Homo sapiens: one gene and its partners. The protein of the gene in region 4 purifies or fractionates together with the protein of the main gene of each other region. This does not show direct contact. Each region holds a gene or a part of one and is shown on either strand. Other genes may lie near its edges. The genes, in order: SARAF, NDFIP1, PTCH1, WWP1, SMAD1, ARRDC4 and PTPN21.

Region 1 (4,109 bases), about 56 Mb from region 4:
TTGGGAGAGAGCCAAACAGAAGAGGTAAAAGAAGTTGAAAGTAAAAAACAAAATGAGAAGACAAACCTCCTTTGGTTTCCCAATGCAACGATTTTCTATTTCAGAACCAAGCACAGGATGCACTAACCTCACACCCGCTCTATTTATGGCCACTGCGAGGGAAACATACCTGTGAACTCAGACTTAAAGCCTGGGGGAGGAGGTCCTGCTGAGTTGGTGAATCTCTGGTAACGGTGGGAAAATGGAGGATACTCAGAGTACGGTGGAGGAGAATACTGCCCGTCACTCAGGAACAGCTTATAGACTACAAACGCGATCCCAAGGAGTACCACAATGGTAATCAATCCACTCATGTTACAGGAATCCGCCGAGGACCACTTATAATAATAATCAGAGAAAGAGGCAAAGCCGTGCTGCTTTCCAGACTCCTTCAGTTTCTGCAGGCCAAGTTCTGTATAATCTAAATTATACTCCAAGCCACAAGAACCTCTTAGTACATACTGGTCTTCAGAGGACTCATAGCCTTCACAGCTCACCACAGTTTTTCCAAATTTGTATGCAATATCTAAGTCCGTCTTACATTCCCACTGTGAAGAAAAATAGAAACAGACTATTAGAAACAAACATTTTTTTCATTTAATATATGTTACTTGGGGGCCGGGCGCAGTGGCTCACACCTGTAATCTCAGCACTTTCGGAGGCCAAGGCGGGTGGATCACGCGGTCAGGAGTTCAAGACCCGCCTGGCCAAGATGGTGAAACCCCATCTTTATTAAAAATACAAAAATTAGCCAGGCGCAGTGGCAGGCGCCTATAATCCCAGCTACTAAGGAGGCTGAGGCAGGAGAATCACTTGAACCTGGGAGGTGGAGGTTGCAGTGAGCTGAGATCGTGATTGCACTCTAGCCTGAGCAACAGAGCAAGACTCCGTCTCAAGAAAAAAAAAAATGTTACTTGGGCTATATATCCGTCATAAAATTGCAAAATGAAGCAAGGGAATGATCCGCAAAATTCACAATGGTAAGTATTCATGTCTAAGGGAAGGAAAATGAGGGGCTTCAAAGATAATGGTGGTATCTGTGTTCTACTTCTTATGCTGGATATTGCGTATATGAGTATTCGTTTTATTACTATTCTTTACATATACATGTTATATATCCATCTGAACATATTAAGTATTCTACAATTTATAAAATTTAAGCAAACTGCCAAAATGTCAACTTTTTGCCACTGTTGTTCAAGATGCTTTCTTTAAAAATCCAGATTTCTTAAAAGATGTTAAGGCTCAAAACAGCATCATATATGAATGTCTGGTAGCTACACAAAGCAACAGAGATATTACATAACCTTCAGAGAAAAAAACTTTTCTACACAAATTTTATAAAACCATGGACTAACTTTCCAAGGTCCAATTCTATGTAATTCTCTTGTATTTTTTAAAGATATTTAGAAAAATGCAAAAAGAACCCAGGCTAGCCCCAAAAATGTCCACCTTATAAAAAAATATATGCCCAAGTTTGGTCTAGATTCTATATTTTGTGGTGGAAAAAGCAATATGCTTCTTTAACTCTTAAGATACAAGCTAAAGGCCAGGCGCGGTGGTTCATGCTTGTAATCCCAGCACTTTGGGAGGCCAAGGTGGGCGGATCACCTGAGGTCAGGAGTTCAAGAACAGCCTGGCCAAAATGGCAAAACCCCATCTCTACGAAAAATACAAAAATGAGGTGGGCATGGTGGCAGGCGCCTGTAATCCCAGCTACTTCAAAAATAGAGGCTGAGGCAGGAGAACGACTTGAACCCAGAGGCAGAGGTTGCAGTGAGCCAAGATCATGTCACTGCACTGTACTCCAGACTGGGTGACAGAGGGAGACTCCGTCTCAAAAAAAATGAAAAAAGACACAAGCTAAAGTAGATTTAATTGGTTCTGTTGCCCTTCTGCAAATTTTTGTACAAATTATTTTCCTCTTTCAAAGTTCACACTATTTTACTTCATTTATAATAGCCTTATTGAAATATAATTCACACATACCATACAATTCACCCATTTCAATGGTTTTAGTATATTCACAGTTGTGCTACTGTCACCACAATCAATTTTAGAATATTTTCGTCACCCCAAAGAAATATTGTGCCCATTAGCAGTCACTCTCCATTCTCCCGCCGCACACCTCCCAACCAACTTTCTGTCTATATGGATTTCCCTAAATGGACAGTTCACAGGAATGTAATAATACAATATGTGGTCTTTTGTGACTGGCTTCTTTCACTTAGCATAACATTTTCAAGATTCATCCACGTTGTAGCATGTATTACTATTTCACTTTTTTATGGCTAAATAATATTTCTTTGCATGGATATACCACTTTTATTTATCGTTCATTAGTAATGGACATTTGAATTGTTTCTACTTTTTGGCTATTATGAATAATGCTGCTATGTATATTTGTATGCAAGTTTTTGTGTGGACATGTGTTTTCAATTCTCTTGGGTGTATATACCTTGGAGTGGAATGACTGAGGCATACATGGTAACTCTACATTTAAACTTTTGAGGAACTGCCAATTTTCCAAAGCAGCTGGACCATTTCACATTCCCAACAGCAGTGTATGAGGGTTCCAATTTCTCGACATCCTCACCAGCCTTGTTATCTTTTTTATTATAGCCTTCCTACTGAGTGTGAAGTGGTATCTTACTGTGGCTTTGATTTGCATTTCTCTGATGGCTAATAATAAGGAACACTTTTCATGTGCTTATTTATTACTTATATATCTTCCTTGTAGAAATGTCTATTCAGATGCTCTGCCATTTTTACCTTGGTTGTTTTCTTACTGAGTTGTAAGAGTTATTTTATATTCTAAATACAAGTCCCTCACCAATTATGATTTGCTAAGCTTCCTCCCATTCTGTAGGTTGTCTTTTCACTTTCTTGATGATGTCCTTTGATAGTCAAAAGTTTTTCATTTGGATAAGATGCAGTTTTTCTTTTGTTGCTGTTACTACACTGTTTTTAAAATAATTTTATTTGGAGGAAGATTCATAGGTTTGTTGACTTAGGTAAATAAAACAAGCTAAACTTGTATTGGTATTTCATGTTAACTACCACTTCCTTAATCATGCGTACTTACAAGTAGCTTCTAAGTACTGTATTTAAATTTCAACTCTTGGAATAGAAGGAGTTTCTGTCCTGCTACTAAATGGCCTCTCTCCTGCTACTAAACATAAGCCAATGTATGATATGCTCAACACTCCTTTGCTCATGCTATTCCCTTCTCTAGCCTTTCCTCTCTAAAAATGTTATCATTCCTTCCTAACACAGCACAAATGTCTCATCCTTTAAGTCCCAATGGCTCCAACCAGACGTGACTTTATAATGTTGTGTTGGGACCTACATGTAATCTGAGTGCCTGTCTTACCTCTTCTACTAGTAAGACAGTTTCTTCATTCTACCTTATTCATTTTTGTATATTGCAATTAATACATGCTTAATGAATGACATCACCATTACTGCCTTTTTTTCCCATCAAGACTCTAAAAGTCATAAGTAAAGTGGAGTGAGACTTCTGCTATAACCCAGAGAATTCTATGATTCAACTTAGCAGTACTGGGGGAAAATATTGTGAAGTAAGTATCACCCAGTACACATCAACTTCCTCTCTGAATTGCAAAGACCACGCATAAAGGTTGTATCAAACAAGAATATCATTCTGATGGAGAGGGGAAATCGTCAACATAAGTTTCTTGCCTTGTGACCAGTCGTCTTAAATCAATTTTGAAAGCAGTCAGAATACAAAGTAGAAATATGTAACTAGTGATTTAAACTGAATTCATTTAATAAAATCTATCTCTAAAGCATATTCAGTTTTGGAACTTCAAGGAGATGCTCTGCTCGTATACAAAACACCAGCGTCCCAAAGGCAATCAATGAAACCTGCCGAAATGCTTCCTTTCAAAAGTAACCACCCTCAGTTCTAAGACAATTTTAAAATCAAGTGCTAGAAGCACAATAGAGATATATGAACCCCTACTATTTACGATCTATAATTCCTAATTATCTTAACTTTGTCTTAAGGGTAGGTTGGTATTCTTTGAGGAACGACAGGAAAATGACAA
Region 2 (4,109 bases), on a different chromosome or scaffold from region 4:
TGGTTCCTGGGAGAGTGAGTATAATTTGCCATGTTACTTGATGGCTGCTCTGTGGGAATTAAGTTATTTTCATTATCCAATTTTGATTCGTTACTTATGATTGTATTGATTAGTGAAAGTAGAGCTAATTTTAAAAATCAGGTACATTTGCTTTTGGGATAATAAACTCATCTCTTCTTAAAAATGATGAGGTAAATTACTAGTCAGACCTGCTCATTTTTCCTTCATCTCTCCTATTACCACTACTTTTTCAAGTCTCCTGGGATGGCTGAAGTATCTTGAAGCAGAAGCACACTAATGTTTCCTTGATTCTGCACACTTAATATTTTGCTGTTGGGTGGATAGCTGCTAGGGAGGTCTAGGAAGAGAATAAATATATGCAAATTTGTAGAATTAAACTCATAAGAGGGATCTTCACATTGATTTAGATGAACTCCGTTCTTCCAGCAGTCCAGATCATGTCATTTGTGGGGACATAGTGAGTTCAGATTCCATCTAGCCTGATGTTGATTCATGGAGGTGGAGATTGGGATGCCATATAAACCAGTGGAGATTATTGGGCACTCTTGGTTCTTGATGTCAGATATGTGAGTGCTGCATTTGTCATTTTGTAAATATTCATCCAGATTGAGGCTGATGAAGGTAGGGCATTGTGGGAGAATGGAAGCAGGATAAGTCCCCAGAAATGCGGGGACCATCAGGCCTCTAGGCTCTATTCTAGCAAGTAACTGGAGTGAGTGATGAGCAAGTACAGAAGCCTAGTCTGGGCAGTGTGATGGCATAGGCCCAGATGTTCCCCTCTTGGCTTTAAGATAGTAGACAGTTTGCAGACCACACCTACTGTGAGGAGCGAAGCTCCTAAAATCATTGCTTGGTAGAAATAGTTTATGAGCCCAATCTAGGATGATCCTAAATGGCGATGATGTGCATTCAGTTCTTACAGGTACCAGGGAGAAACTAAAAACCCTAGTGTCTAAGGGCAAGACCATCATAATGTAACTGCCGTATATTGGAAGCAAACCACATGCTTGGTACTGTGCTTGATGCTTTTATATATTTTGTATATTGTTTCCAATCTTCATAGTAACCTTGAAAGGTAGAGATTATATTATCTCCATTTTACAGATGTGAAAATTTAGGTCCAGAGAGAAAAAGTAATTTTCCCAAAGTCATATGACTGATAAGTAGCAGAAGTGAAAGTCAAACCCAGATATTCTAGAATCCAAAGTCCTTGTTTGTTTCACTGTACTCTGCAGATCTGTTGCAATATATGGTAAATAGATCAGTATGGAAATTAGCTCTGATTAATCACATAACTCTTCAGAATACTTTCATTTGATACAAGTACATATTTAGGAACTTCTTAAAGGGCTCTAGTATTCAGCAGACATGTATAAAGCACTTTTTAAATATAAGATGCAGTATATTTTACAGTGGATAGGTAAAAAGCTTTGTATAAGGCAGTGTTCCTCATTGTTATTCAAAAGCCTAAAATCCAACTAGGGTAAAGGGCCCACAAATACTGATAACTAAGACACATAAGAGCAGTGGGCATCAAGAACTGAAACTTTTTACTGGGTGATCATAGGGGAAAATGAGATTTGATGTGGGCCCGGAGTTTTGATGGGTAAGAACATTCCAGAGGGAAAAAGGCACAGAAAGCAGGTGTGAATTCAGCCAGGTGAAGGCAGTTCTGTGGATGTAGTAATTGGCTTTGTATGAGCAAGAGTTTGTGAAGGGAGATAGAAAGTCCTGACTACAACTGTTGTTTATAGAATCTTTGGAATGTTAGATGGGCGTATTTAAACTTCATATGTAGCTTTTAGAGAATCCTTCAGAGTTTTTGAGCAGGGGTATGAGAGGACTTGTGTGGTGTTTTGGAAACATTAACTTGGCAGCAATTTCTAGGATGCATCATGGTAGAAGAGATACCAAGAGGACAGGAAGAACAGTTAGAAGGTGTTCGTAATATTATTAGATGTTACTTCCATATATTTTTTGGAGTATATCTTTGAATAGTTATGCAAAAAACAATTAGCTTTTAATTTTGGCAAAACCTTATTCTGCTGATACGAAGTAAGAATACTAGGTATTTAATGTTTTAAAAAATTAATTATAAAAATTCGTTTTTATAGAAATTTCAAACAATAGAGGAAGTATGTTAAGTTAGAAAAGGAAGCTGCCATTGCCACCGACTTCCCTTTCTCTAGTTCCCACTCCCCAGGGGAACCACTGTTAACAATTTGGGTCTTCCAGACCCTTTTCTGTGTACAACAAGTTTTGATATTCCCTAAAATATTTTTCATTTAAGGAGCCCTCATTGAACTGTGTACAAATCTATCACTTTTAAGTATATATTCAATTATTTTTAAATATCTCAACACACACCTATATCAGTTAAAAAGATAGCCCACATGTGTTGGTATTGTTCATGATCATGTTATTTCTAGTTTTGCAATATTACGTTATCAAGTTAGGATGGAAAAGATCTTATCTGCTGATAAGGTTAGAAGTGAGATTTAGATCTGTATACCAATACAAATACATGCTTATGGAGTTGAGCAGTGGGCAGTTCTGTGGACTATTCATGTATGATCGTACTATTCTTTTTTCCCCTATATCAGCCTCGTAAAGCACTTGAGCTGGTTGATTTTATCTTTTTTTTTTTGAGACGGAGTCTCACTCTGTTGCCCAGGCTGGAGTGCAGTGGTGGGATCTTGGCTCACTGCAAGCTCTGCCTCCCGGGTTCATGCCATTCTCCTGCCTTAGCCTCCCGAGTAGCTGGGACTACAGGTGCCCGCCACCACTCCCGGCTAATTTTTTTGTATTTTTAGTAGAGACGGGTTTCACCATGTTAGCCAGGATGGTCTCGATCTCCTGACCTCGTGATCTGCCTGCCTTGGCCTCCCAAAGTGCTGGGATTACAGGCATGAGCCACTGCACCTGGCTGATTTTATCTCTAATTACTAATATTTTAGGTCCTAAACAGGTCCTCGATTACTGATATTCTAGAATTTAAACCAAATGTGTAAGTAAATTTTGTCTTTTGTCTTTTCTTGAGGTATATTTTTTTAAAGGAAGAGTAAATAGTTCTTTGTGAACTATTCTTGAAGTGTATTGTTTTTGAAGTGTATTAAATTTTTGAAGTGTATTGTTAAAGAACTTGGGTTATAAGATGAAAATTTCATTTAGAACACTGGGGATAGAAGAAAGATTTGCTTCTTTTCTAATTATATATTAATAATGCAAAATGGAATTTTAAACACACATTGAGCCTTTAATGCTCATAATTTTGAACTGAACCAAAGCAATAACTTTTTTCCTTGCTACTCAAATTTAACCCTTCATTTTTCTTTATGTCTTCCCTTTGCCTAGAAATAATTCTTTTTCTTTTCATTTAGGATGAGGATTTTGTGGGTCGGGATGATTTTGATGATGCTGACCAGCTGAGGATAGGAAATGATGGGATTTTCATGTTAACTTTTTTCAGTAAGTATGTATGCATATCAGAACCACCCCCTACAAACTAGAGTGCTTTGGATTATGGGTGAATCTGACTGAATTAAAATAACTAGTTGAGCTAATATATTAATACATTATGTTTATTTGGTGCCTTTTACTGGAATATTCAAAGCTTAATATACCTTTGTTTTAATATCCCTTCTCTTTGCCTTCTATTTTCATGAATATCTGTGGAAAATATAATTAAAGCAGTTATGAGGATGCTGCATTTTTACATGAGCTAAGCCTCATCTTCCAGGTCTACGGGGCCCTTTTGCGTTGCTTCTACTCATACTTAATCTGTAGAATAGGAATTAAATGCCTTTGATGAATTTTGCTCTGAAAGCTTCTTTTTTCTGACAGATCAAAGTCAGCCTGATTTTCTCCCTTCATGTTACTTGCCATTTATCTTTTTGTGTGCCTCACATAGAAGTGAGCAACCATTTCCTTTATTTGTTGTATTAGAAAGATAAGAAAATGCAATGCTTTTAGAGGTGATGTTATATAAGTTGTCAAAATTCAGAGAACAGGAGGATGAGTGACTTGAATCAGATTATTTGGGGGCACTTATTTAATGTTGAAGGCATTTATTTTATTTACTGGACTAT
Region 3 (4,109 bases), on a different chromosome or scaffold from region 4:
GCCTGAGGTGTCCCTGGGGGCTGCTTGTGACCTCTCCCTTCATCTGGGGGCTGGTTACACGGATGCGTTCCCATGTGACCAATTCGCTGTGGCATGCACCTCCATAAAGACTGGCAAATATTGGTAAAAGGTGGTGCTGTTTGTGTCCTTGTGGCGCTGCACCGACCCTCCGCAGGTTAGCAGTGGGGGAAGAGAGCAGTGTGGAGCTGGACTGGTTCCCCAAGGATGACAAAGCTTGGACACATCAGCCTTGCTCTGGGGATAAAAGGTCACTGGGGTCCAGCGTGGGATGTGCCCGAGCGCCACAGCCCCTCGGGGATGCCGAGAACCCCAGGAGAACCTTGTCCTCCTCTTTGCCTGGCTCTAGGTCCCTTGGCTGCCCTTGTCAGTGGCACTCACCTCAGTTGGAGCTGCTTCCCCGGGGCCTCTCCTCGCATTCCACGTCCTGCAGCTCAATGACTTCCACCTTCGAATCCCTCCTCTCACACCGGACGTGGAAAGGCACGTGGGGGTCCTCAAACAGGCCGTGGTCAGTCTCAGGGTAGCCTGGGCAGAGTCCCCCTCGGGGGTTCCGCCCAGGCCCAGGGACAGGCGGCGGGTGCACGGCGACAGTCACGGAGGCAGAAGCCGTCACAGTGGTGATGGGCTGGCAGTAGCCGGGCACGGAGCTGCCCATGGCAGTGGACGCTGGGTTCCGAGGGTTGTGAGAACGGGCCCCGCGAGGGCCCCAGCGGGCCCTATTGCTAGGGCCAGAATGCCCTTCAGTAGAAATTTCAAAAGCGTCTCTGCGCGGTCTGTAGGGGGGTGGCCACAAGCCTTCTCTGGGGGGGTCCCTGCGGGGCTGCTGGCCTTGCCGTCCGGGAGGCAGGGACCCTGAGTCCAGGTGGGGCTGCTGTCTCGGGTTCGAGGGTGGGTGATGCCTGGATTCGGGATGGACCACCTGCAGAGGGTGAGGGTGGGTTAGAAGGGTGGTATCCCAGGCTGGGCATGGTCCCCGCAGCTCCCACACTTCCCTCCTTGGGTTTCACCAAAGACTCAGTCAACCCTGGGGAGCCAATGGGGGCCTTCCACCCACAAAAGAAAAGCCTGTCCTTCTAATAACCTCCAGGACCTGGCGGAGGAGCGTGTTGTTTGAAAATCCTGTTTCCAGGCTTTCTCTGACACGGCTGGCTGGACACGTACTGCTGCTGCCCATAAATGTGGGCTGTGGTCAGAGCATCCAAGCTGCTGCCCCCCACAACCTGCCCCCGACCCTGTTAGGTTCTGCAGGCTCTGAGCTGCCCCTCTCCCGAAGTTGCTAAGTGTGCGGCCCTGGCTGGCCTGAGTGCAGGACGCTGGCAGGACTGTCTCTGCCTACTCTGTCAAACACAGTAGCCGCTCCAGACATGTGGTTGCTTAAGTTTTAATGAACTAAAATCCAAAATCCAGCTCCTCGGTAGCCCCGGCCACATTTCAAGTGCTCCACAGCCACGTGTGGCCGGTGGCTCCCATCCTGGAAAGCAGAGAGGGCATTTTCGTCACTGCGGAGGGCTGTGGCGGGCAGCCTGTTCCATCTGATTGTTAAGAATCTGGTCTCTGCGTCTCTATACAAAGCACAGAGCAACACAGTGGCCACATCAATCAAAAGGACCGTGACCAACTTCAAAGTCGTTCAGCTTGTACCTATTTTTAGGCTCCTGCTGAACAAAACCAGATTCACACTGCAGCTCAGCGGGCGTCGTCGCGGGGGGTAGGAGGAGGACAATTCAGGTTATTTGGTTGGCCTTTCTCTCTTTCACGGAAGGGCTGCTCTGGCCTGGGACTGGAATACCCATTTCCTGGAGGGACAGCAGGGGGCCCTCAGTGGAGCAACATCAGCCCAGAACCTTCCTTGAGTTTTCAGGGCTGAGCCCATCCCAGGGAGCACAGGGTGGAGGAAAGGACCCAGGTCCTTGGAGCCTCCGAGGAGGGGCTCCCAGGCTCCTGGTGACCTCCTGAATCACTGAAGGCTAAGAACTCAGGGGTGGTTCTTGGCCTCTCTGCTCTTTCCTGCCACCTGGAACATGAGCTTGGAGCCCCAAAAGCTATGGTAAAGTATTTAGACAATAATAATGAATGTTGTATCAAGGGCATTGAAACCTAACAGAAATGAGAGAAGGAAAAAACCTGACCTCTGTTGGCAATAAAAATACTACTAGTTTTAGAAAATATCACTCTCAAATGACATGCACCTTAAGAGGAAAAAAAAAAAAAAGGCAGGAATGCTTTATCTCTGGCCTTTGAAGCCCAAACTGTCCTCACCCTGAACAAGATAGATGCTACTGCTTTGTGCAGTGACATTACTGGCCCCTGCCCTTTTTATCCTTTATGAGATCAAACCACAGGAAGATGGCATTTGTATAGTTGAGAAAGAGTTAAATACTGGTTATTTCCTATGATTTGACCTAGTCTGTACCTTATCTCTGCATCCCATCTGCCTGTGTGATGTGCTGCTCAGCAGACAGGAGCCCCCGCTGGACCTCCAGGCCCACTACCACGGTGGGAAGACCCCTCCCCCTGGTTCTGCAGAGTCACTTACAGTGGAGTGGGCGAAGACGGGGTTTTCTGTGGCTTCCACGATCACTTGGTGGGCAGGGCCTCCCGCGCCCTGCTGGGCCTCGTAGTGCCGAAGCTCCTCGCTGAGGCCTGACACTGTCGTCTGGGAACTATACTCCGAGTCGGAGGAATCAGACCCGCTGTGCGTGTGGCCGGGCGGCATGGCGAAGCGGACCACGCTGGGGGGTGGCTCAGGGGAGGGTGTGGGCAGGCGGTTCAAGCCGTTGGCTGGAGACACCTATTTAAGGGGATTCCATGTTAAAAGTGTTCTTGTCCATTTACCTGCTGGCCACACTCAAAGCTCAAAGCACGGTATTTTTCAGGGGCCTCTGTTCCCTGCCCTGGGGCCCTGCGCACTGTGCCGTATTAACCTCCCCTTCTCTACCACCTGGAGGACCTTCAGGTCCCGCAGCTGGAGCAGAAGAACTGTCCTCTGCTCCACACTGGAAAGGCAGGATGTGTACTTTTTACTCTTGTGAAGTCCAATTATGCATCTCAAGGGGAAAGTCTTCATTTACTGTATAAAGATCTGTAAGACCCAGGCTGCCAATCAGTTGATTTAGAGGAACCAAACCGAACCCGCCCTCTAGCCCTCAAAGCCAGTACACCGAAGAGGAAAACAGACATGACTCTGAGATGTTTACTGAAGAACCACCAGCAAGTGGGGAGGCACCTAAGTATCGAAGTGAAGAGCGGCACAGGAAACACAGCATTCAGCCGGCCTACACGTGGGACATCCCCGTGTCACTACTGACCTCAGGATATGGTCCAAAGAAAGACAAAAGCACGGGAAGCAAAACCAGCCCATTGAGAACGCCGAGGATGGTGAGGATCGCCAGCACAGCAAAGAAATACCTGGGAGATCAAGAGGAAACGGGAACACGCGCTGTGACAGGGTGGATCGCGCCACCCTCCGTGTGCCCGACACAGCAGCATGGCAACGCCAGAAATGAACAAAACCCACCCCACTGAAAAGGCTGTTATCCAACCGCAGTTCACATTCAACACAAGGTGAGTTTTTGCTTTTTGTTTCTTTACCTTATGACTTTGAGGACTACATTCCACAACCCAAAGTGTTAGTTCATGAAGGGAAGAAAAAAAAAATTAGTTTGTTAATTTGCTGAACTCTGATGGCATGTAATGTTATTTATGAATGTGTTACACAAACACAAAAATATGGAATGCGACCTGAATGGCTGGGCAGACTGAAAGCACAAACACAATGCCGAGGGGCCCCGCTCGTGAAAACCCAGCAGAAGCAAACAAATGAAGTGAAGGGTGTAGAATTTAAACAATTTAGCCCAGGAGGAAAAGCAGCCCACTTCTGCAGGCTGCTAATCCACTGTGAAATGCTTCTGCATCTTACGGCAGAATCTCTAATTAAGTCTCTAGCATATCAGGTAAGGCTTTCCCTGGCCTTTCATTAATCACAACTTTCTGCCTAGAATTCTGTGAGTTCCAGTTTTACCAAATAGCTCCAATTGCAACCTTTTTAGAACACAGGAACCAGCTTTCTGCAAAGAAAATGCTGCCCA
Region 4 (4,109 bases):
CAGGAGAATTGCTTGAACCTGGGAGGTGGAGGTTGCAGTGAGCCAAGACTGAGCCACTGCACTCCAGCCTGGGTGACAGAGTGAGACTCCCTCTCAAAAAAAAAGATCTGGTTGCTTCTGTTTTGTACTCTTGTGAGCCCTAAGCCATCAGCTACCAGGTAAGGCCAGCAACTCTGCTGGAAAGGCTACTTGGAGAGAAAAGCAGCCATTAGAGTGATCACCAGCAAAACCTGCCCAACTGAGCCCAACCCAGGAAAGCAAAACTGTAACAAAGAAAATGGTTGTTTTAAGTCACTTGGTTTAGGGCTGTTTGCTACACAGCAGTACATAACTGAAACAACACTCACCTGGTTCCTTGTGTGTTCTGCATAATTTGTTCAAACCCCAGAAAAAGGAGAGGTATAATTAATTACACTCCGCAAAATTACAACCTGAGAAGATAAAGTTCTATGCCCTTGTTAATGTTAGTGATTCCACTAAACTCCAGGTTCCAAGAGGAAAGGCTTCATATCTGTCATCTCAACACTGTACTCCCAGCACCTAGAAATATGTCTGGCACATAGTAGGTACGCCAGTATGTGCTGTGAGTGAACTGTAGATTTAAGAAATGTCAAGACGGCCAGGCGTGGTGGCTCATGCCTGTAATCCCAATACTTTGGGAGGCTGAGGCGGGCAGATCACCTGTGGTCTGGAGTTCAAGACCAGCCTGACCAACATGGAGAAACCCCGTCTCTACTAAAAATACAAAATTAGCCAGGTGTGGTGGTGCATGCCTGCAATCCCAACTACTTGGGAGGCTGAGGCAGGAGAATCTCTTGAACCCAGGAGGCGGAAGCTGCAGTGAGCCAAGATTGCGCCATTGCACTCCAGCCTGGGCAGCAAGAGGGAAACTCCGTCTCAAAAAAAAAAAGAAAAAAGAAATGTCAAGACTAAATCAACAAATGCTACTCTTCCTTATAACTTAAAAACCATGCTAGTCTTCCTTATAACTTAAAAACCATCTGACGTATGGTTTTACATTATACATTCCCTAAAAAAGTTGTTTAAATGTATGAATTGAAGCATCCACTAAGGAGGGCTTTTTAATATCTTTGGGTTTTTTTCAATGGTAGAGCTTATGATCTAATACAAAAATAATAAAATATCATGATACAGGTTGAGTATCCCTAATCCAAATATCCAAAATCTGAAATACTCCAGTGAATGTTTCTGTTGAGTAATGTAGGTGGCTCAAAGTTTCCCATTTTGGAGCATTTCAAACTTTGAATTAGGGATACCCAATCTATATATATTTTGGAAATTAGATCCTCATTTATATCCTCAAAAAATGTAAATTTTTGAAGACTAAGCTTTTATAAAAGGGAAACACAAACTTCATCTGTAAAAGCAACAGAATTAAATTCAAAATTTTCAAAAAAATAAATATCTACATTTCACCAATGTACTTTTCCAGATAAGAAATCAACTTTTGCTTTATCCTTGACAGGAGAATAACTATTCTGTGGTACAATGCTTACAAATTTAAATATCACCTACCAATAGCCACTGCAGTGAGATTACCATTTTAACACAAAGGAAAAAACTGACAAGTTTACCTCTACACGGTACAAAAGTTTAACACATTCCAAACAGGTAAATTCAAATCCTTCACATACAGCTCTTAACTAATGATGTTCCATTGTACATGAAGAGTAAGAAGTCTGGTGGGAAAAGAATACTGACATAGGAACAAAAATAAGGGTTTTAGTTGTAGTTCTAATTGTGGCCACTAACTAGCCACATACTTTGGAAATTTAACTTTTTAAACTTTTTTTTTAGCCTCAGCATATTCATCCAAAAAGCAATGATTGGCTGGAAGCGATGGCTCACGCCTGTAATTCCAGCACTTTGGAAGGCCATGGTGGGAGGGCCACGAGTCCAGGAGTTCGAGGCCAGCCTGAGGAAACACAGCAAGACCCCATCTCTATAAAAAATTTTAAAAATTTAGCTGGGTGTCATGACATACACCTGTAGTCCCAAGTACTTGGGAGGCTGAGGTCTAGGCTTCAGTTTAGCCATGACTGTGCCACTGAACTCCAGCCTGGGCAACAGAGCAAGACCCTGTCTCAAAAATAAATAAATAAAATAAAATAAAATAAAATATAAAGCAGTTATTACTTCCTAACACACCAACTTATCAGTTGTCATGAGAACCAAATGATAAATATAGTTATTATTTACAAATGTGAAATGCTATACTAACATAAGGTATAGTACAATTCTTAATGCCAGCAAAAACAATAAAATTCATCTGTGTATGTTTTTATCATTTTTCCTCCATTAAGTATTAGTAACTAGTTCCTTGGATACCACTATAAAGGGCAATTTATTGGATTTTCCAATGCTCATTATAATTGTATCATATTTTTATACAAAGAGTAAAAAACAACAGTCTTTCTAATAATTATGAAATCAAAGTTTATTAACATGTAATAACATGCTATGATTACCTATTACCAGGGAGATAATCTTACAGGTGCAGAAAAGTCAACTGTTTACCAATCGCACTACACTTTAACCGTACTAGCTAGCTACTTAATCCACCCAAAAAAAATTGAGTAGGAATCTTCATTTACATTGTGAAGTCTCCATTTTTATTTGATAAAGGCTTCCTGAAAGAAAAGAATATTCTGAAGGTATAAATGAACAGAGAAGATAAAGTTCTTTTTTTTTGAGACAGAGTCTCGCTCTGTTGCCCAGGCTGGAGTGTAGTGGCGCAATCTCGGCTCACTACAAGCTCCGCCTCCCGGGTTCACACCATCCTCCTGCCTCAGCCTCCCAATAAAGTTCTTAAAGTTTCTTATTTCACTTACATCACCTCTCTCCTCCCTACTCCCCAGCCCAAAGTGAGACATACAAAGAAAGTAACAATCCAAATGAATGATCTGATATTGCTAACTGCTCTTCTCTACCCAATTCATCCCTCAGACTCACCAGCTCTCATGCACATATTAAACAAGGAGAGTAGATACTCTGATGAAAGTCTAGGACTCGAGAATCACAAAATGTTAAAAACTAGAAGGAATCTTGTGGGATCATCTAGTCTTACTGACAAGGTCATTTAAAGGCAGTAACTATATTTAATTGATGGTAAAGCCACTGCATTATCTTCATACATGAAAGAACACCATCATTGTCAACAATCTCCTGATTCCACTTTACCCACCAGCTGAATGATGCTTCAGGCAAATCATTTAAACTCCAGGAATAGTTTATTGTGTAATATAATAGCAAATAACATTAGTCAAAATTCTCTGTAAACTGTAAACCACAACACAAATGTAATATTGTGTTTCTGTATATATACAGCATATCTCTACAGTAAGAGTTCTTATCAGTACACAGAAGAACCTGAAGGTTCTACTGTTTTAAAAAGCTCCCAGTAGGCCCGGCAGGGTGGCTTACGCTGTAATCCCAGCACTTAGGAAGGCCAAGGCAAGCTGATCACTTGAGCTCAGGAGTTCAACACGAGCCTGGGCAAAATAGTGAGACCCCATCTCTAAAAAAAAAATACAAAAATTAGCCGGGTGTGGTGGCAAGCGCCTGTAGTTCAAGCTATTCGGGAGACTGAGGCAGGAGAATCTCTTGAGCCTGGGAGGCGGAGGTTGCAATGAGCCCAGAAGGCGCCACTGCACTCCAGCCACAGGGACAGGAGTGAAAGAAATCCTGCCTCGAAAATAAAAAAAGCTCCAAGAAATTCTGAGATGAGTGTCATGGATGACTTTCAGGTGTTCCATGGACTCCCCTAAAATTATATCCACAAAGCATAGGCGCATATGGAAATTTTCCAGGCCAGCATTTTACCAAGAATTAGTAATCTCCAAAAAGTTGTAAAGTAGCACACATATGCTGAGGGTAAAGCTTCATGATCTTGCTCAAAATGGTACCACTGTTCTCCCAACCAACCTGGATCAGAATCAGTTATTTTTACTTTCATTTGCCCTCTCATCAAATTTTGGCTATTCGACTTCCTTTCTTCCTTTCCATTCGCGTGCACCACAGCTCAGATCCTCACTATCCATGACTACAACAACTGGGAGGTCTTTCTACCTCCAGGGTCTCCCTACCTC
Region 5 (4,109 bases), on a different chromosome or scaffold from region 4:
GTACTGTGCCTATTCTCTCCTGGTATCCTGGTCCCCAAATATAAATTCCACAGATGTGTGAGATAGGGGTTATTTCCCCCAACCAGAGTGTTCATTGACTCAGAATTATGTTTGATAAGATGTTCAAGAGATAATCAGGAACCATAAAATACAGAGGCAATAAAAAAGATTTAAAAAATCATAATGATTAAAGTGGTGTACATTCCAATTTATGACACTGCACATCCAAGAAAGGTCCTTTGAGTTTATCACCAATTTTTTTTTTCTTTTTTTTTTTTGAGACTGAGTTTTGCTCTTGTTGCCCAGGCTGGAGTGCAATGGTGTGATCTCAGTTCACTGCAACCTCTGCCTCCTGGGTTCAAGTGATTCTCCTGCCTCAGCCTCCCAAGTAGCTCGGACAACAGGGGCCCGCCACCACACCCAGCTAATTTTTGCATCTGCAGTAGAGACAGGGTTTCACCATGTTAGGCAGGCTGGTCTTGAACTCCTGACCTCAGGTGATCCACCTGCCTCGGCCTCCCAAAGTGCTAGGGATTACAGGCGTGAGCCACCGCGCCCAGCCTTCATCACCAGTTTTTAAATCGATGTTTAAAGCAGTTTTAGGTTCACAGCAAAACTGAGTATAAGACAGAGTGATTTTCCATATGCCCCCCACCCCCACACCTTCCTAGCCTCCCTCATTATTAATATCCCCCACCAGAGTGGCACATTTGTTTTAACTGATGAACCGACATTCATCCTACAGACCTACAACCAAAGTCTACGGTTTGCGTCAGGGTTCACTTATGGTGTACATCCTATGGGTTTGGATAAATGTATAATGACATGCAGTTACCACTGTATAATGTGTCATAGAGACAAAATCAATTTTAAGTACTTAAAAATATAAGCAACTCCTATTTTAATAAGTATCTCCTATTTTAATAAAAAAGCACTAAAATGAAACAAGACATACCTAGTAACCAAACTGTACTTTAACTTCAATTTGCATAAACATTATATAAATTGCATGACCCATGCCATGTGTTGAGTGCAGCAGCAAAGCACTTTCTTTCATGAGAGGTTATTTAGGAGCAGTTTTATTTGCCAGGGTGGCTGTGGATTCTAACAGATTTCTCAGAGAGTCTACCGAACTTATTTACCTGAGTTCTCTGCTCACTTAAGTCTATCCTACTTGCCTATGTAGAGCTGGAAGAATGATGGCATCCTCCACTCGGTCACTGCTAAGGATATATACAGCGCTGGAATCAAAGACCCACCCTTTACTAAAGGGGGAAAGAAATTTTTCATTTCTGCTTGCAAGTTCTTCAGGCTGAGAAGGGGAAAAACTTGTGCCTCAATTCCTTTTAGTAACAAAGTTAGAAACAAATAGCAAGAAATTCTATTAGTTTGTTCCAGTTGTAGTTGCACATACATAAGAGCTGAAAAACAGACGGGGTTTATGTGTATCTATCCTAATTACAGAAGAAAGCCTTTGGACAGCCCAGTTATACCAACTTCCAACTTTGGAAATCACCAGTGAAAACTCTACTTCAGTACTGTTATACTTATTGTTTCTAAATACCATTTTGTTCATTTAAAAATACTCTTTTTGGCTGGGTACAGTGGCTCACGCCTGTAATCCCAGCACTTTGGGAGGCCAAGGTGGGCGGATCACCTGAGGTCAGGAATTCGTGACCAGCCTGGCCAACATGGTGAAACCCTGTCTCTACTAAAAATACAAAAATTAGTCGGGCGTGATGGTGTGCACCTGTAATCCCAGCTACTCAGGAGGCTGAGGCAGGAGAATCACTTGAACCTGGGAGGTGGAGGTTGCAGTGAACCAAGATCGTGCTCCAGCCTGGGTGACCAGAGCAAAACTCCGTCTCAAAAAAAAACAAAAAAAAAATTTTCATCATCAGTTAAAAATTATTAAGTATTAAAGATCTAAACAGATAACTGCAAAATTATTCTCAGATCTTCATTAGTTAAGTCAGTGTATTTGTTCTTTAAATTAAAGACTTACTTGTTATCCAGCAATTGTAGTGAGCTTCTCTTAACATTGGACTCTATTTTTCTCAAGTAGCTCTCTTTTTAAAGACTAATAAAAATTTGTGAGAGAAAGTAACATCTGGACAAACTTTAGACTCTAAAAAAGGGAACAGGCAGCAATTAGTTTTACCTCCTCTGTTGATTTCTGAGGGCAGGGGAGGCGCCATCATGTTTGTGTCCATCGGCTGAGAGCCATCCTGGGTCATGGGGTCTTCAGGAGGCAGGTAAGCAGGTGGGGGCGTATCAGCTACAAAGTTTTTAAAGAAGTTATTTCTTAACCCTTAGTAAACATACATGCTCAAAACACGTATCCTCTTCTGTACTGAAATTCTCAAGAGATCAAGTTGTCATTTCAATCTCCCCATTAAAAGACTAAAGGCTACAGGCACTGCCTTGATGTACAATTTCTGAAAAGTATTAACCATGCCACAATCATATACATTTTTGTGAAAATTCAGTGGGAGGAAAAGAATTATACTATATGCCAGTTCCAGAAGCTGTTTGCCTATGCAGGATCATGCTGTTTAAAAGCAATCAGAAGAGTATTTTAAGCACACTTTAATATAATCTGCTTTGAGAGGACCTCTGCATTTCAGTTTCACTGATAGATGGAAAACCTCTGAAAGCTTCACTGGACTTCTTAAGAAAAGGAGCTTCAGGGTCTTTTGCATTAAATCTATGGGCTTTTAGAAAATTCACCAAGTTTCATTATAGCCTACTGATTTGAACTGTTAATTTTCCATGACTTTAGGGAATCTGTTAGGACCACACTCTCCCTACTCATTTAAATAATCACTAGCTTTAAAATCTCTAGTAACAGAATAACAGAAAATGAATCAGTTTATCACAGCTATCTCCTATTTCAGAATTTACATATATGTTTCTTCTGGCAAATAAGAGGCAAACATGATTTTTTAAACAAAGAACACTAACACAAGTCTTGCATTTTCTTAATATAAAACAAAGGGTATAGGTTTCTCACAAATAATCCTTTTCCATCCAAAAGCAAGCTCCTCACTAGCTATCATGAGCCCATCTAGCATATGTGTCAGAGCCTTGGAGACAAAATTTTACCTGAGGGAATCGTGAATGTTTGGATAAGTAATCGAGACCACTCAGAGCAACTGTCAAATACAAACAACTCATGTTGTTCCTTCAGAGAGCCCCAGTGATTTCCAAGACTCACTCTCCAGCTGAATCACAACCTGGTAACTTCACATCCAGCTGCTAACAAGCAACAACTCATAGTACTGAGATGGGACTACTGGGACCTTCTCTGGATGCCTCTTTTGCCCCTTTTCAGCTTCTTTTAATTCAGCCTCTTCTCTGCAGCTGTAAGGCTGACTCGGCTTTATCTCAAGCCAGGAACAAAGACAAAGAGCCTCCTCTGAGCCCAAGTCAATGAATTTCTGCCAAGAAGCTGGTGAAAATTTCATTGGCAACCTATGGCATCAGCACAACCAAGAGGAACCCGATAATTCTTGATACTATTCTACTATTCCTACAGGCACCTCCTCCCATCCCTTGCAACTGTTTTCCATATTTCCATTACTTGGCCTTTGCCTTAATCCCTGACATTTAGGGACAAAGTGTAAATTCAAGCAATAACCTTTAATTCAATCTTGGGGCCACTCTGGGCTGCCACTGCTCAAAAGTCTTCTGAAATGTATCTCCTCACCACTAACCTGCCCATCATACAGGTTAGTGGTGAGGAGGAAGGGAGAGAGGTAGACAGGAAGTCACCAGTTACTTTGATTTTTAAACTAGTCTGTCTCCCAACCCTCATCCCAAACAGCTTTGGACTGAAAACCGGACAAAACAATGTGAAATAAACAAGATTTAAATAAAAGAAGGTAATAAATACATAAATAAAAGAAAGCAATATAAATGTGGACCACTTTTCAATTTTTGAAGGCCTAGCACTGATGTTGAATTCAAATTTACTTAAAAACATTTCAAGCAGCCCAATAAACACACTTGCCCAGTCATTTTCCCTTCCGAAAACATTAATAGATGTTAAGTATATTTTTGTTTAGGGTATCTTTCTTAAAGTCTACTGGCAAGAAATTTGGCACTCT
Region 6 (4,109 bases), on a different chromosome or scaffold from region 4:
TCTATAGTGGCAAGAGAAGTTACTACAAGATTTACAATGTTCAGTTTACGAGTTACACACACCAAAGCTTTCTGTAAAACCCAGTTACTTGCAATATTTTTTTTTTATTTATATAAAGAATCGTAAGGGATCAACAGTGTCTGTTTTTGGCAAAGACAAATCCCTTTAAATCAATTCCCACAATGGTCATAAAAACTTTAAAAATATTCAGCCTCCCAATTCTAAGTAGTTTTTAAAAATACAAGCTACTTGGCATCACCAATTTTTCAAAAATGGTTTTCAAGCGGCTGTTAAAGTCCCAGCTATAAGCCAGGCCAGCTGGGTGCCGGCTGTTTTATGATTCTGACCACAAGAGGCCATGGAACCACAGCATATCTGCTATCTTTTCATAATCTAAAGGTGAACATTAAATTCTATTTCTTTCTCATGCGAAAATAAGACTTAAACAACAACTTCTAACTGCTAGCTTTTTCCTTGTCTTTAAAAACACAGGCTAGAAAAACCTCCAACATGAAAAATACATCTTTGTCACATCAGTATCGTGATGGAAAGTTTAAATTATCTCAGTATTTTCTATGAAGTAAAAAAAATCATTCATTCATATTTAAATGAAGAACCATTAGGTCCTAGTAGCTATCATGAAAGTACAAGGTATAATTTTATATTATTTTGATAATATGGGTTTAGATAAAAGAATCTAGCTCATTAGCTCCCATCTTGCCTATTCTGTTGTTACTTATAGCCTGATCTTTCTTATCAGTCTACAGTATTTCTGGTGATTATTAGAAGTTCAATGCTTTAATGTGGCCAAATCTGTCATAAGGAAATGATAAGTGAAAGGATCTCGGCGGCAGCTGCATGCACTTACTTAATGTTAGAAAATGACATGCAAAATGGAAGGATACATAGCATAATGGCCTGAGCTTCAATAACAGGCTGAGCATGATTAATACTCTTCCATAATTACTGTTCCTCAACCTGCTATTATTGAGGAGTTTAGAATACCCCAGTCCTGTAAATGTGGCCACTCTGGTAAAAGTAACTACTCTCTGTGTGTGCATTATTGTTATTAAGCCTTATTAATGCATTTCAAGCCTGTGTAACTTTTTGGCAAAAGAAGCCCTGAACAGCAGGGACATAATCAATAGTATTAACACACACAATTTGTAATTTGTCCAACCTAGAATCATATATTTATAGTGAATGCCTTTGGGTTACAAGATTGTGTTTTCCAAGCCATCAGAAAGTGACAGGACAGACTACCAGTAAACTGGCTAAATATAGATCCCACTGTTGAAAGGAAGGAGGAAGGGAGGGAAGGAGGAAAAGGAGGAGGAAGAGAAAAAGGAAGAACTTACTAATAATGCTGGTGTGTTGACATCGACATGACTAACAACCTGGAGTTCCCGCTTTACACTCTGATCAGGTACCTTGGGTCGTTCCAACACTGCCCGCACACAGTACTGAATGCTTCCATATTTCCCAGTAAACGAGGTGACCAAAGGTCTGAAACCAACCAAAGACATTAATTATGAGTTTACTTTTCAGTTAAACAAAGCCAAAAAAAGCATGGTTTAAAATGTTTTAGGTTGGAAATAAAAAAAGAGTAAGTCTATTTAGGGACTATTCAGTGTAAACATGCATACTTGAGAATCAGAAGAGACCTAGCAGTGATAAACTTGAATGGACATACTGCAGAGAAGGATAACCACAAAATTGTAGTGTTTCACTTACTCAGATGGAAGTTGAAAGCGAAATGGAAATTCATGTTTTCCAGGCTGTAATAAAATGATGCCTTCACCTATAAGAGATTGTATTTTATTTTAATGAAGGATAGTTAGTATTAGATCAAGAGTTTTCACAATGTAAATAATTTTTTGAAGGAAGTTTTTCTCGCTACAAAATGCAGCATACTCCAAAAGTTCATTAAACAAATGTAGAGAATTAAGTTTGAAGGGGGGTGTGTGTGCGTGTGTCTATGTGTTTTAGAGACAGGGTCTCGCTCTATTGCCCAGGCCAGAGTGCTACGGCCTTGAACTCCTGGGCTCAAGCAATCTTCCTGCCTCAGACTCCCAAGGAGCTGGGACTATATGCATGTGCCATGGTTCTTGACTAATTTTTAATAATTCTTTCCAGAGACGAGGGTCTTGCTATATTGCCCAAGCTGGTCTCGAACTCCTGGCCTCAAACGATTCTCCCACCTTGGACTCCCAAAGCACTAAGCTTATAGGGGTGAGCTACTGCACTTGGCCAGTTTTTACCAAGTACCATAACACTCACACATACATACACACATATATTCCATTCTCAAATAGACCAATTACTAAAGTGCTAAGGTTCAGAACTCCAACATACATATATATGTGTATATGGATATGTATATGTGTGTGTGTGTGTGTGTGTATGTAAAAATCACAACTGCTTACCCCCATTCTATTATACTAACGGGAAATACCAATATTAAATTGGACCAAAAACTAATTTAGCAAAAGACAGATTTATTTTGGGTATACCAGAAACATCACACTGAGTATTCTTTGAGCAGAAATGGAAAAGGGAGTGAAAACTTTATGAATATCATTAATACTGGGTATAACACAAAACAGCCAAACCCACAAGACAAGCTATTAAGCAAGTCATGTATGTATCCTTGAGCTCTCCTGACTAACACAGAGTTTCTTGGTGGCTAACTTGGAATACAGAAAGGGCTTTACCAAGCATGGCCAGGGCCCTTTTCTCAGCTTTGGGTTACCAGCTCCATTTTATTTCAGGCAGAAGCTTATCACTAGATTGTGAGAAGGCCAAAATGCAGGGTGTGGAGGGACTTTGTAAGGCCAGAGGCACCACTGAAACCTCTGATGAAGGCACCAAGACAATCTGTTTAATTCAGATCCAAAGTAGACTTCATGGCTTTCACGGTTGGTCAGGAGGCTCTCTTGAGAGACTTATACACTGTCCTTTCATTTCATGCTCAGATTTAATATTGAATTCCCTTATTGTGGATAGGATAAATAAGATGAAGAAATCGGAACACAGAGACAGAACTCTGAGATTTGCCTGGTCATCTGACACTAAAATGAAGATTTCTACTTTATCCATTCACTAAAAAAAAAAATTTAAAGAAATCAGTAGTGAAATGGGAATTTTTTATCCCTTAAATAAAAAAATAGAGTTTTATTTTATGACCTTAACCAAGTCAGCTGACATTTCAACTTCGTACTTTTAGAAAATAGGAACACATTACTGACCTATTAGGTCTTCTGAATCTATCCCCAATTTTTAATGTGTTAACATCAAGGGGGATAAAAAAGTGACACACCTGCCACTTAAGTCAATTTGAATACTCCACAGTTGGGTGACTGGAGGCAAAGTGAAGAACAAGTCACAGGGGCATGAGATCATGTTAAATTCAGTGGCAGGGCGGGTCCCAGTGGCTGACGTGTGCTCAGGAAGGTAGCAGCAGAGCAGGGACCAGGGAAGCATCTCGACCTGACAGCTGTGGAGTGAAAGGCTCAAGGCAATCCCAGTGCTCCTAAAAGAGCTGGGCTAAAGTTCTAATTTGAAATTACTAGATTACAGAACATGACGAAGTATTTACAAATGTTTTGAAATGTGTATTTCATTTGAGTTTAAAATGTGTAGTGCTTAGATTTCAGGCACCGCAGATAATCCTCAAAGAGACCGGGGGAGGAAAGGAGATTACATGCTTGTACACAAGCAATGACCATGGAGTGCTAGAACCTAGAGCACCCACATAGGAACATGGGTGGGCCCGACATCTTCAGGACCTGAGGGCTGGAATGGAGACAGATAGGAAGGGAAATTTAGATAAGGGAATAGCATGAGGAAGAGCATGGCAGGCATTTGTGGGGAACACAGTTGCCCAGGATACTGAAGAGAATGAGAGACATGAAGTTCCCCTTTCATTAAGCAACAAATCGACATCGGATCTATATCATTTAAAATGAGACTTTCAACTATCTCAAAACATAAACAGGAAAAAGAAATGGAAAAACTGATAAAAATGGGTTATAATATTTGGAATTCAATCTTTGTTTTCTTTTCCTCTTTCTCAAGTTTTGTTTTTAATGTAAAAGGTTCACAAGCTG
Region 7 (4,109 bases), on a different chromosome or scaffold from region 4:
AGGGAACATCTGGCTTTATTCCATCATGTGTTGTGAATCATCATTTTGTCCATTTTCATAGGAGTGATATTACCCCAGATAAGGTGCCAAGAACATACACTAGGGAAGGACAGCCTCTTAAATACATGGGACTGGGAAGACTGGATATCCATAAGCAGAAAAGTAAAACTGGACCCCCTATCTCTCACCATAAACATTACCCCAGTTTAATGGCATTATACTGGTTCCAGGAAAAAAGCACTTCTTCAAAGAAAAAAAATGATACTTAAAAATTATTATAAAGAGTATGTAAAGAGAACAGATGGCACCTTGGTAAGTTGAAAGCTTTTGTGAACACCATCAAAAAGCCCAGACACTTTTGTTACATAAAAATGCATGTCAGTATGTGATGAGGAAAAACTAGCAATTCAGTGGCTCCCAGAATTTATGAGCTAAAAAGAGGTCTTCAGATTTAGAAGGACAAAGTTCTAAAGCCAGGCAACACAAGGTCAAGGCTGTAGGGAGCCATGATCATACCACTGCACTCCACCTGTCTGGGCGACAGAGCAAGACTCTATCTCAAAAAAGGCAAAAGAAAAAAAAAAAAGCCGGGCAAATAAGTGCGCCCTGAGTCCTGGTAACAGTGTTGGGGGCAGAGTGGTTTCGCACATGGAGAGTAGACATGACTTTGGCTCTGTCTGATAGACGCTTTTTATCTAGCACTGGTATGTGGATTTCCCAGCTTGCAGTACAGTTTGTCACAAATGTTTAAAACTAGGGTGTTTATCTAAAACAATACAATAAAAATAAATTTTAAAATATCTGAATTCTAAACAGACATGAATACAATTCTTACCATTCTTGTAACTTAACTGAAACTGCATGTGCTGTTGATTACTTGAGGCGTTCCTCTCACCTTAATATGTGATGCGTTGATGTAACCAGTGTTGTTTTCTTTAGTTGGGACCAACTCCACTCTCACATCATCATAAGGAAGAACATCTTGGAATCGATTTCTTTCTGCATTTTCAGGGAGTCGTGCTGTTGAGCACTCCCCATCAACTAGCCGTTTCTTAAGAATTCTTTCATATTCTGTGAATACCATTCCTTGTTCTAATCGTTGTTCCAGAATTTTACACTATAAAACAGAATATGTGTAATAACATGAATACAGCCACACGTCGTGGCTACCTTTTGACTGTATATTTGAAATCTTGTTTTCTGCTTCAAATCTAGCACTGTATAATATTGAAAATTCTAGGTTGGGCACGGTGTCTCATGCCTGTAATCCCTGCACTTTGGGAGGCCAAGGAGGGAGGATCACTTGAGCCTAGGAGTTCAGGACCAGCCTGAGAAACACAGTGAGACCCCGTCTCTGCAAAAAATTAAAAAACGAGCCAGGTGTGGTGGTGCATGCCTGTGGTCCCATCTACTTGGGAGGATGAGGCAGGAGGATTGCTTGAGCCCAGGAGGTTGAGGCTGCAGTGAACCATGAGAACCTATCTCAAAAAAACCAAACCAAAACCAAAACAGAAACAAAATTCTAGGTGAAAATGAAGTTAAAATTTTAAAAAGCCACAACAACAAGAGTTAAAAGAACAAAAGACAATCATTTTGGTGAGAAATATAATGCAAACTTTTGTTTAAAGTTGAAAATTGGCCTAAAGAAATTTGTTGAATTCATTTTCTCTAGATCTGTGGTCAATTTTGTGACCCCTAATAGATGGAATTCTCCTGGGGAACAGTAAGTAAATCTAGGGGACGGATAATGAGTTCCAACAGCTATGAACAAATGTTTCCATTTTATGTCATACGATATATAAAAGACTAAAGCAGTAGGAAATATTCGAAACTACCTCCAGGATCCCGTTGTAAAGCAAATGTATGCCTATCTGATTTTGATGTAATAAAACCTCATAGAAAATACACCTCAGGCACAAAGGAAGTTTTGAAAAATTGAGAAACTACTCTCGAGATAAACTTTCAGTATAATAAAAGTCAATGTCTGCTGCTTTTCCCCTGTATGCTCCTGTATTTTTGTAGATTTCTTCTCACTTTAAGGCCATCAAAATCAAGACTGCTCCAAAAGGCCAGGAGAAGGTAAAAAAGAACACTGAGAAACAAACAAACAAAAAATCAGCATTCGAACCTGAAATTATCTATTAAGACATTAGCTATACATTTGCCCCAATTTTGAGGCCCATATTACAAAATTCCTTAACACTCATTTATTATTAAATTGTGTTAGAAAATTCACCAAAATCTCATGAAGGCATTTGCGTAGTATTTACCGGTTGTTCCAGAGAAGGCACAAAGCCCTGTGTGTCCCATACATACCCTTTCATCATTCGTTGCTCTGGTAGCCACTTCCTTTCCTTCATCAGGCAGAGGCACTCGAGATAGGGAGAGTCCATTTAGGGCAGCCAGTTTAAGAGGACCAATTTTTTTTGCATCTACTCGAGTCTTTTTCATTCCCTGTAAAAGGATTTATATGTATATATGAAATATACACAAATACAACCCCTGTGAAAAGAAGTTTCAATGCACTGAAGACCAGGAACACACAGAGGGAGTGTTCTCCTTTGCCAATAAACCCAGAAAGATTACACTCCTTCACACACCACTTGTTTAACAAACATTAGTAGGAAGACATTCCTTTCAAGGCCAAAGCCCTGATAAAGTCTTCCAGATAGAAGGTTTTGAAACACTATTGGTTACAAAGTTCTGTTGTAATGAAAGGTGAGGCTCCAGGCAGACTGCATTCCTTTTAAAACAAGACAGACGTAACAAATCAGCTGAAGTCCAAAAAAAAAAAAAAAAAAAAAAAACAAAAGCTTTAAATGCAATCAATTGACTATAGTAAGCTTTTATAAATTTTTTTTTTGAGGGTCTCACTCTGTCACCCAGGCTGGATGGAATGCAGGGGCACCATCATAGCTCACTGCAGCCTCAACCTCCAGTCTCAAGCAATCCCACCTGAACCTCCCGAGTACCTGGGACTACCAGCACATGCCACCATGCCCAACTAATCTTTGTGTGTTTTGTAGAGATGGGGTCTCACTATGTTGCCCAGGCTGGTCTCAAACAACTGAACTTAAGCAGTGTTGGCCTCCCAAAGTGCTTGAGATTACAGGCGTGTGCCACCATGCCCGGACAGCTTTTTATAATTTTTAAAATATATAAATTCTTTAAGTCATTCTGAAAAATTAAATGGTTTCTGCAGCAGCCCCCTTTGTGTGTTAAGCCCCCTCCTCATATGCTACTCTGCATTCTAGTGCAGACTTAGATGACCCGGGTTAGATCACGCTACCTCTCAGAACGGCTACGTTTTTAAACAAGGAAAATAAAACAGGGCTAAAATCTCCATCATGACACCAGGAGGATAGGACAGAAGAGAAAGCATCAACAAAATCTTGTCTCCTGAAATCAAGTGTTTCCTAAAATTATTATTAGAGCATGATTTTCCTCTCTGAGAATAGTAAGCATAAGAACACTAAGTTGACCAGGTGCGGGGGATCACGCCTGTAATCCTAGCACTTTGGGAGGCCGAGGTCAGGAGATTGAGACCATCCTGGCCAATATGGTGAAACCCCGTCTCTACTAAAAATACAAAAATTAGCTGGGCGTGGTGGCACATGCCTGTAATCCCAGCTACTCGGGAGGCTGAGGCAGGAGAAAGGCTTGAACCTGGGAGGTGGAGATTACAGTGAGCTGAGATCGTGCCACTGCACTCCAGCCTGGAGGCAGAGTGAGACTCCGTCTCCAAAAAAAAAAAGAACACTAAGTTTCGTTGGATATACTACACTTCCTTGGATGATATCAATATAATGAGTAGCCCCAACTGGAAAATAATGGTTCTGCCCTGTAAACAAAATCCGTGTTATTCCAGCTCTCTCAGCCTGTAACAGGCCATGAAGCCCCATGATAATGGTGCAAGAACAGAGGGAAAAGGCAACTTGGTGAGAGAGGAAAAAAATCCTAAAAGATTGCTGCTGTAATTGGAGACTGTGATTGGTACCTAACTCAATAAGCTAAGTGGATTAATTTTTAATTTTATAATTAATATTTGATCATGAGCTCCCCACATAATGCAGTCTAGACTATAAACAGCAGAGGCCTGGGTTCACATC

What was found.
Region 1: the proteins of WWP1 (region 4) and SARAF purify together in Homo sapiens (affinity purification with mass spectrometry; 3 studies listed by BioGRID and IntAct, with this or other methods). This does not show direct contact.
Region 2: the proteins of WWP1 (region 4) and NDFIP1 purify together in Homo sapiens (affinity purification with mass spectrometry; 2 studies listed by BioGRID and IntAct, with this or other methods). This does not show direct contact.
Region 3: the proteins of WWP1 (region 4) and PTCH1 purify together in Homo sapiens (affinity purification with western blotting; 2 studies listed by BioGRID). This does not show direct contact.
Region 5: the proteins of WWP1 (region 4) and SMAD1 purify together in Homo sapiens (affinity purification with western blotting; 2 studies listed by BioGRID). This does not show direct contact.
Region 6: the proteins of WWP1 (region 4) and ARRDC4 purify together in Homo sapiens (affinity purification with mass spectrometry; 2 studies listed by BioGRID and IntAct, with this or other methods). This does not show direct contact.
Region 7: the proteins of WWP1 (region 4) and PTPN21 purify together in Homo sapiens (affinity purification with mass spectrometry; 3 studies listed by BioGRID). This does not show direct contact.

The regions. Positions count from the first base shown.
Region 1 is NC_000008.11:30,069,473-30,073,581, forward strand, and holds part of SARAF (store-operated calcium entry-associated regulatory factor isoform 1 precursor), read right to left. Parts: intron 588-4,109; coding exon 170-587; intron 1-169. UniProt on the Homo sapiens protein: Negative regulator of store-operated Ca(2+) entry (SOCE) involved in protecting cells from Ca(2+) overfilling.
Region 2 is NC_000005.10:142,132,329-142,136,437, forward strand, and holds part of NDFIP1 (NEDD4 family-interacting protein 1), read left to right. Parts: coding exon 1-14; intron 15-3,401; coding exon 3,402-3,489; intron 3,490-4,109. UniProt on the Homo sapiens protein: Activates HECT domain-containing E3 ubiquitin-protein ligases, including NEDD4 and ITCH, and consequently modulates the stability of their targets. As a result, controls many cellular processes.
Region 3 is NC_000009.12:95,446,512-95,450,620, forward strand, and holds part of PTCH1 (protein patched homolog 1), read right to left. Parts: intron 3,430-4,109; coding exon 3,330-3,429; intron 2,813-3,329; coding exon 2,558-2,812; intron 941-2,557; coding exon 401-940; 3' UTR 400-400; intron 1-399.
Region 4 is NC_000008.11:86,345,026-86,349,134, reverse strand, and holds part of WWP1 (NEDD4-like E3 ubiquitin-protein ligase WWP1), read right to left. Parts: intron 1-4,109. UniProt on the Homo sapiens protein: E3 ubiquitin-protein ligase which accepts ubiquitin from an E2 ubiquitin-conjugating enzyme in the form of a thioester and then directly transfers the ubiquitin to targeted substrates.
Region 5 is NC_000004.12:145,540,751-145,544,859, reverse strand, and holds part of SMAD1 (mothers against decapentaplegic homolog 1), read right to left. Parts: intron 2,279-4,109; coding exon 2,162-2,278; intron 1-2,161. UniProt on the Homo sapiens protein: Transcriptional modulator that plays a role in various cellular processes, including embryonic development, cell differentiation, and tissue homeostasis.
Region 6 is NC_000015.10:97,963,292-97,967,400, reverse strand, and holds part of ARRDC4 (arrestin domain-containing protein 4), read right to left. Parts: intron 1,802-4,109; coding exon 1,735-1,801; intron 1,507-1,734; coding exon 1,359-1,506; intron 1-1,358. UniProt on the Homo sapiens protein: Functions as an adapter recruiting ubiquitin-protein ligases to their specific substrates. Plays a role in endocytosis of activated G protein-coupled receptors (GPCRs).
Region 7 is NC_000014.9:88,471,349-88,475,457, forward strand, and holds part of PTPN21 (tyrosine-protein phosphatase non-receptor type 21), read right to left. Parts: intron 2,455-4,109; coding exon 2,317-2,454; intron 1,118-2,316; coding exon 896-1,117; intron 1-895.